Linked DNA regions of Homo sapiens: region 1 is linked to region 2. The links come from fine-mapping of genetic effects on gene expression. A gene starts in region 2. The other region holds a variant in brackets. All regions are shown on one strand. Distances are between the middles of the regions.

The links. PIP is the estimated chance that this variant, and not a neighbour inherited with it, causes the effect.
Region 1: its variant is the best candidate, but not a certain one, in a credible set for the expression of MDM2 in whole blood (INTERVAL, PIP 0.54).

What each region holds. Positions count from the first base shown.
Region 1 is chr12:68,785,474-68,789,867 of GRCh38, forward strand. No RefSeq gene overlaps it. Among named protein-coding and RNA genes, the nearest start is that of MDM2, 21 kb to the right of the region's middle. RefSeq lists enhancers at 1,772-2,326, 2,327-2,880. The variant A/G (reference allele first, on the strand shown) is at 1,970.
Region 2 is chr12:68,805,921-68,810,299 of GRCh38, forward strand. It overlaps MDM2 (MDM2 proto-oncogene), which reads left to right and starts at 2,257. Exons shown (of 11, transcript NM_002392.6): 1 at 2,257-2,571; 2 at 3,288-3,372. The coding sequence starts at 2,558. RefSeq lists a silencer at 1,955-2,344 and enhancers at 2,546-3,745, 2,845-3,234.

The DNA of each region.
Region 1 (4,394 bases), 20 kb before region 2:
AGTCCTGCACACAGCACCCCGTATTATACTCTGAAAATTAGGAAGAAGTGGAAGATAGTGCCTTTCACCACAGAGCTTTCAATTTAGAGGCCAAAGAGCATGGCCAAATATTAAAAAGTTATGCAAGGACACAGATATGAACAAGGAAATATTAACGTACCACCAGCTGTACCAAAATGCTGCAGTTCTCTGAGTAATCAAGTGATCATTACTCATGGTATCTCAGTCAGATTTCAGACTAGCAAGATCAACCTTGCTAGTCTCTCTTTTAGGAACTCAGTTCTTTTCCTTCTAATGCCTCATCCCAGTTTGCAATTATATATTTATTTGCTTCTTGTATTTCTCCTTTACTATACTGCAAGCTCAAAAAAGGCACAGGTTATATATGTTTTAATCAGGCTATATTTTAAATGCCTTGCACTGTGCCAGTAAATATTCGTTAAATATATGAATTGCTGGGTATGATGGTGTGAGCCTGTGGTGCCAGCTACTTGAAAGGCTGAGGTGGGAGGATCGCTTCAGCCCAGGAGTTCAAGGTTGTAGTGCACTACAGTCATGCCTCGAATAGACTTTGCACTCCAACCTAGCCAACATAGCGAGACCCTATCTCTAAAAGTAAATGAATTAATTAATGAATTAAGGGTCACAGCCAAATTCATGCTTAAAATATTTTGATACTTGGCCAAGAGGATAGTGGCAGTAAATCAATAAACTGGTTGATGGTGAACTTCTTTTTTGTTGTTGTTGCGGGGTTTTTTTGTTTTTTATTTTTTGAGACAGGGTCTCTGACCCCCAGGTTGGACTACAGTGGCACAATCACAGCTCATTGCAGTCTCAAGCCACCTTCCTGGGCTCCGGCAATCCTCCTGCCTCAGCCTCCCAAAGCACTGGGATTACAAGCATGAGCCATCCCACCTAGCAATGATGTGTGTACTTGTGACATGATGCATAGGATTTACCTTTCCACACTCAGCTAAATAACTGTTTCAATTTTGCTAGGAAAGTTCTGGTCTAGTTTGGTCTGGACTCTAGTTTACTTTTCTTTCTTTTTAACCTTACTTACTTTTTATTTTATTTTTATGTGTTTATTTTTTGAGACATAGTCTCGCTCTGTCACGCAGGCTGGAGTGCAGTGGCACGATCTCGGCTCACTGCAACCTCCACCTCCCAGGTTCAAGCGATTCTCCTGCCTCAGCCTCCCGAGTAGCTGGGACTACAGGCGTCTGCCACCACGCCCGGCTAATTTTTGTATTTTTAGTAGAGACGGAGGTTTCACCATATTGGCCAGGCTGGTCTCGAACTCCTGACCTCGTGATCTGCCCACCTTGGGCTCCCAAAGTGCTGGGATTACAGGCTTGAGCCACCGCGCCTGGCCTAACCTTACTTACTTTTTAACTGTGGCAAAGACTCTAGTCTTCTTTTAAGAGTAACTACAATTTACTTTTTAAAATTATTAAATAATTTTCTATCATACTTTTATGTGCTGTGTTTTATGGATTATGTGTTTTATGTGCTGAATTTATGTTTTTAAATCACTTTTTAAGTTATCTGCATCACTTTTAAGCAAGGTGGTGAGAGATAAAAACCATGTCGCTTTACTTTTAAAGTGAATGACCGCCTCTAAGCTTGAAAACATCACAGTTAGACTGTGTCATTTTCTGGTCTTTAGGTGGAGCCACTGCTATTGCAGGTTTCCTAAACCTAAACCTATTTATAGAGAAATTCCTCTTCAGTCATTTTATAACCAAAGCCTCTTGTAAGTATTTAACATTACATTTTAGCTCAGTGAATTTCACTATATAGGAAAGATCCTGAGAGAACTAACAATATAAAATATGTAGCCAATTCATACATATTTTAACATTCAGAAATACTACTTATTAGAATTTGAATTTATTTCTCAGACTTTTCTGAGAGGTTAGAAGGGCCCTGTTGTGTTTAACCCAAAGACCAGTTCAAAAACTAGGGA[A/G]GGAGCTGTTTAAGAGGAAGGAATGACTAACGTCTGAAGGTCAGAGGACTAAAATCCTGGTGATTGAACAAGTTGCAACACATGGGTTTTCCCTCTAAAAAAACAAAACAAGCCGGGCAAAAAAAAAAAAAAGAAAAAAACAAACAAAAAACATTCTGTGCTGGCCCCAGTAATTACTTGTACCCTTGCTCTTTCATTTCCTCTTCTAATGATAAAGGAAGCTGCAGTTGCTCAACTTGTGAACTGAAAACATGGGACAGCAATGACACAGGAAAATGGGCAAGTCCAGGCAAAAGCCCGTGCGGTGGCCAGAGTCCGGGCCTGCCTGCTTTCCCATCATTTTCCTTTCCCATGTTTGTTCTTTTCTTCTTTTCGCCTTGATTTCTTATCGTGTTCCTTTTTTTTTTTTTTTTTGAGATGGAGTTTCGCTCTGTCACCCAGACTGTAATTCAGTGGCACGATCTTGGCTCACTGTAAACTCCTCCTCCTGGGTTCAAGCAATTCTTCTGCCCCAGCCTCCCAAGTAGCTGGGATTACAGGCGGGTGTCACCATGCCTGGCTAATTTTTGTATTTTTAGTAGGCACGGGGTTTCACCATGTTGGCCAGGCTGGTCTCGAATTCCTGACCTCAAGTGATCCACCTGCCTCAGCTTCCCAAAGTGCTTGGATTACAGGTGTGAGCCATCACAACCGGCCTGTTACATTTTTTTAAAAAATATTTTCCACCACCCCTTTTTCCTTGTATCACACCTCTCCTTTAAGCCCACAAGTTAAAGCATTGATGAACACTTCTACTTCAACTTGGGAATATTAATACAAAAAAAAGACCCAGCACTCACTGAAGTACAACACAAAGCAAATCCCTTTTACTACAAATTCCTTTTTCTACAGCTCTTTCCAATGGATTTAAATTGTTCTTAAATGAAATTTTTAAACATATAAAATTGGGAAACATTTTAATTTTCATAGAGACCTATAAATCCATGTTTTCCCAAATTTAGTCCTGTCGAGGGTATGGGAAAACAAGTACCATCTTACATTCATCATGAGACCATAAATTGCATAGCCACAAAAATGCTCATGCCCTGTAACCCAGAAAATCCACTTTCAGGAGTTTATCCTAAGAAAGTAAAGATGTGCAAAAAGATTTTCTTTGTAGATGGGGTCTCACTGTCACCATGGCTGGAGTGCAGTGGCAAGATCATAACTCATTGCAGCCTCAAACTTCCATGGTCAAGCCATCTTCCTACCTCAGCCTCCTGAGTAGCTGAGACTACAGGCTTATGACACCGAGTGTGCCTAAGTTTTTTATTTTTTTTTTAATTTTTTTGTAAAGACAAGGTCTCTCTTTGTTGCCCAGGCTAGTCTTGAGCTCTTGGCCTCAAGTGATTCTCTGGCCTCAGCCACCTGAAGTACTGGGATTACAGGTGTAAGCCACCACGTCCAGCCCTGCATAAAGATTTTTGTGCAGAGAAGTTTATCACAGCATTATTATTATTATCATTTTTAGAGACAGGGTCTTGCTCTGTTGCCCAGGCTGGAGTGCAGTGGTGCGAGTATAGCTCACTGCAACCTCCAACTCCTGGGCTAAAGCAATCCTCTTGCCTCAGTCTCCTAAGTTGGTGTGCACCATCAGGCTGAGAAACATTATTGATAATAGCAAAAAAAATAGGAAAGCAACTAAATGTCCAACAGTTCTTGGTCCACCCGTCCATGTGACTCACCAGTCTTCTGGAAAGGCCTGGGATTTTTAACCTTATGCTTGCCACCTAAACCTCTGCTGGATGAGTGAGGCCCTAGAGATCAATAGACCTCTCTAGTTAATGATTACTAGTCTTCTCCCATTTCTAAGTACACACAGCTTGGTTTCCCCACCTTTATCAACATGCTGCTTAGAACATCTAACTATTTTCAATTGCAACTCCTTCCACCTTCCACTGTAAGAACTATAGTTTTTGGGCTGGGCGCGGTGGCTAACGCCTGTAATCCCAGCACTCTGGGAGGCTGAAGCGGGTGGATCACCTGAAGTCAAGAGTTTGAGACCAGCCTGATCAATATGGTGCAACCCCGTCTCTACTAAAAATACAAAAAAAACCAAATTAGTCAGGTGCGGTGGCATGTGCCTGGGTGACTGTCTCAAAAAAAAAAAAAAAAACAAGAACTATAGTTCTTGTTTTGTTTTGTTTTTTGAAACAAGGTCTTGCTCTGTCACCGAGGCTGGAGTGCAGTGGCACCATCACGGCTCACTGCAACCTCGAACTCCCTGGCTCAAGTGATCCTCCTACTTCAGCCTCCTGAGTAGCTGGGACAGTTTCTTTTAAAAATTATGATTATTGGCTGGGTGCGGTGGCTCACACCTATAATCCTAGCACTTTGGGAGGCCGACGCAAGTGGATCATGAGGTCAGGAGATCGAGACCATCCTG
Region 2 (4,379 bases):
ATCAGTTCTGCCTTTTTTTTTCTGCTCTAATAATTTTGTCAAGATAATTTTTTCAAAGCACAAGGCCAATGAGAAGGGGGAAAGTCGGTCCAGAAGGCAGCCGGCCCGACTATTCTGAGTTTGAATCTACTCTTGGTGGTCCTGTTAAAATACAGTTTGAAGCAAATCACTTGTTTTTATGCTTCTAATGTCTACTCTGTCGAAAGCCCAAATTTCCTTGCTTGGCATTTAAGGAGACTCCAAGTTCTTAAAACTTCTTCTTGACTTTCATGCAAGTCAAACGGATTTATTTATTGTATCTCAAACAGTCCTCTTATATTTTCCTTTCTGTATTTTTTGATAATTTTCTTGTGCCTGGAATATTCTCTGCTTTTATTTAAGTCTCACCATCTTTCAAGACACAAAATATGTGTGATCTCTGAGGCCTTTGTGAACTGCCTCCAGCATTTACTAAGCAATTAATTCTGTCTCTGAACTTTTATAGCACAAACCCATTCGTTCACTTGATATTTAACAAATATCAACCTCTATCACTTATCTCTTTTTTTTTTTTTTTCTTCTGAGATGGAGTCTTGCTCTGTCACCCAGGCTGGACTGCAGTGGCGCGATCTCCGCTCACTGCAACCTCTGCCTCCCGAGATCAAGCGATTCTTCTGCCTCAGCCTCCCAAGTGGCTAGGATTACAGGCGCCCGCCACGGGGCCCGGCTAATTTTTGTATTTTTAGTAGAGACAAGGTTTCACCATCTTGGCCAGGCTGGTCTCGAACTCCTAACCTCGTGATCCACCCACCTCAGCCTCCCAAAGTGCTGGGATTACAAGCGTGAGCCACCGTGCGCAGCCTATCACTTATCTTTTCATGCTTACATTTTCTCACTGCTTGAGATTTTCTTTCATCCAGGGTCAAGCACTGAGTCTATTAGAAACCCCACTGTATATGATCTGATGAAGATGAGATTATCTTTTTAAAAGCCACATATTAAATCTCTTAAGTTAATAATATTGGCAATCAACTTAAATCAACTGAGTGACCACTATGTTTAAGGAAGTTTCCTTTCTGGTAGGCTGGGAAGCGGGAGAAGGGAAGGATATAACTTTATAAAAAAAAAAAAGCTGCAGAAGGGAAGGATATAACTTTATAAAAAAAGGTCCTTGTTCACAAGGAGCTAATCACTTACTGGCCAGAGAAGAAACGTGTTCCTTCTTTGCAATGGCTGTGTTTTTGGGTTTAGCTAACTCAATTCTTTATGTCCTCAATTTATGAGACCGCATCAAAAACGTTTTTGCCACATCTCTGTGGGAAAGTAGGTGAGTCAGAATGAGTGCATAATATATAAGTATATATTTTAATGATAATGAATGTGTAGATTAACAAACCCAAACTTTGTTTTTGTTTTTTTGAGAGTCTTGCCCTGTCGCCCAGGCTGGAGTGCAATGGCATGATCTTGGCTCACTGCAGCCTCTGCCTCCCGGGTTCACAGGATTGTCCTGCCTCAGCCTCCGGAGTAGAGTAGCTGGGATTACAGGTGACCGCCACCACGCCCGACTAATTTTTGTAGTTTTTAGTAGAGACGGCGTTTCCCATGTTGGCCAGGTTGGTCTTGAACTCCTGACCTCAAGTGATCCACCCGCCTCGGCCTACCCAAAGTGATGGGATTACAAGCGTGAGCCACCGCGCCCAGCCAAACCCAAACATTCTAAAAGCGCAGAGTAACCGCTCCCCTCCCCGCCAACGGTAACCAGCATCTTCGTTCTCCAACCAGAACAGCTGTATGCACCGGTGTATAAGCCTGCCTTAAGTGCTATTTTTAATCTTTTTTAAAAACAGGCCTTAAAATAACTCATTTGGGTACAACTCCAGCGGCTGGTGGAGTGGGCTTAATATATTAAACAGCTGTTAATTTTGGTTTCTTTTTGGTAACAGCGACACGGAGATCCGCATTTGTCGCAGTTTCCACCGCGGGCGGGAAGTGTAAACACAAGAAATACAAACATAGCGCAACGGCTAAAGGAGTGTCACAGCGCCAAACCTTGCTGGCTCCGCGCCAGGCCGAGCCCCACCCTCTCAGCTCGCGGCCAACACCCCCACCCCGCCTCACAGCCCGCCGCGCCCGCGGGGCGACACCCCCCACTCCATCATCCCGGAGGTGGTGCGGCCGAGCCCCGGACCCAATTGGCGGAAGCGGGGCCGGTTGTGTGCGCGCGCACAAATGCCCGGATGCGCCGCGACGACCCGCGCGCTCCCCTCGGGCGGTAGGGGGCGCGCACCGAGGCACCGCGGCGAGCTTGGCTGCTTCTGGGGCCTGTGTGGCCCTGTGTGTCGGAAAGATGGAGCAAGAAGCCGAGCCCGAGGGGCGGCCGCGACCCCTCTGACCGAGATCCTGCTGCTTTCGCAGCCAGGAGCACCGTCCCTCCCCGGATTAGTGCGTACGAGCGCCCAGTGCCCTGGCCCGGAGAGTGGAATGATCCCCGAGGCCCAGGGCGTCGTGCTTCCGCGCGCCCCGTGAAGGAAACTGGGGAGTCTTGAGGGACCCCCGACTCCAAGCGCGAAAACCCCGGATGGTGAGGAGCAGGTACTGGCCCGGCAGCGAGCGGTCACTTTTGGGTCTGGGCTCTGACGGTGTCCCCTCTATCGCTGGTTCCCAGCCTCTGCCCGTTCGCAGCCTTTGTGCGGTTCGTGGCTGGGGGCTCGGGGCGCGGGGCGCGGGGCATGGGGCACGTGGCTTTGCGGAGGTTTTGTTGGACTGGGGCTAGGCAGTCGCCGCCAGGGAGGAGGGCGGGATTTCGGACGGCTCTCGCGGCGGTGGGGGTGGGGGTGGTTCGGAGGTCTCCGCGGGAGTTCAGGGTAAAGGTCACGGGGGCCGGGGGCTGCGGGGCCGCTTCGGCGCGGGAGGTCCGGATGATCGCAGGTGCCTGTCGGGTCACTAGTGTGAACGCTGCGCGTAGTCTGGGCGGGATTGGGCCGGTTCAGTGGGCAGGTTGACTCAGCTTTTCCTCTTGAGCTGGTCAAGTTCAGACACGTTCCGAAACTGCAGTAAAAGGAGTTAAGTCCTGACTTGTCTCCAGCTGGGGCTATTTAAACCATGCATTTTCCCAGCTGTGTTCAGTGGCGATTGGAGGGTAGACCTGTGGGCACGGACGCACGCCACTTTTTCTCTGCTGATCCAGGTAAGCACCGACTTGCTTGTAGCTTTAGTTTTAACTGTTGTTTATGTTCTTTATATATGATGTATTTTCCACAGATGTTTCATGATTTCCAGTTTTCATCGTGTCTTTTTTTTCCTTGTAGGCAAATGTGCAATACCAACATGTCTGTACCTACTGATGGTGCTGTAACCACCTCACAGATTCCAGCTTCGGAACAAGAGACCCTGGTTAGTATTTTTGTCTCGTGTAACTTTTAAGAATAATTTATTTTATGAAGTGATAAACTAAATTTCGTATACCTCAATTGTAGCATGGCTCTGTAAATAAAATTGTATGTGCATAGCTTAAAGTGTGCTACCTCTGGCGTAACTGCGTGGAGTTAAAAACTGTTAAGAACTGGTCAGTATTTTTTTAGCCATTTGCCACATTTGCTTTAAAAATTAGTTCCATTACATTGTTAAGCGTGGTTGAAGTTACGTTTGTTACGTGACTGATTTTTTTTTCCTTTTTGACCTCCCAGTATTTAATTTTTAAAAATGGTTTCTAAAAGTCAAAAAAGTTATTCGTGCTTGTTTTAAAGATTTTTGTCATTAGAGAAATTTTAAAGTAAAACCTGAAAATTCCAGGCTTTTTGCTCCATGTTTCCTTTTAGATTTTTTGTGTGCGTACCCACATATATTTACATTTGAATTTAAATCTATGTTATTGTCCTGTTTGTTGTACTAACAAGATGAAACTGTAGTTGTTCTGTGACTTGCATCCTTGTCAATAAATAAAGTCTACAGAATTCTTTTTAATGGCTGCATAGTATTCCACAGCATGAGTATACCATTTTAAAAATTATTTATGCCTTTACTGATAGGTTTTTAAAAATTGCCTCCTGTTTTTGAGTATTACAGATAGTGCCGCTTTGTACATGCATCCCGTGTGACTATTTCTGTAAGAAAGATTTTATAGAATTATAGGCTGGCCTCGGTGGCTCACCCCTGTAATCCCATCACTTTGGGAGGCCAAGGCGGACCGATCACCTGAGATGAGGAGTTCAAGACTAGCCTGGCCAACATGGTGAAAACCTGTCTCTACTAAAAATACAAAAATTAGTCGGGCATGGTGGCGCGCGCCTATAATCCCCTGCTGAGGAGGCTGGGGCAGGAGAATCGCTTGAACCCAGGAGGCAGAGGTTGCGGTGAGCCAAGATTGCGCCATTTCACTCCAGCCTGGGCGATAAGAGCGA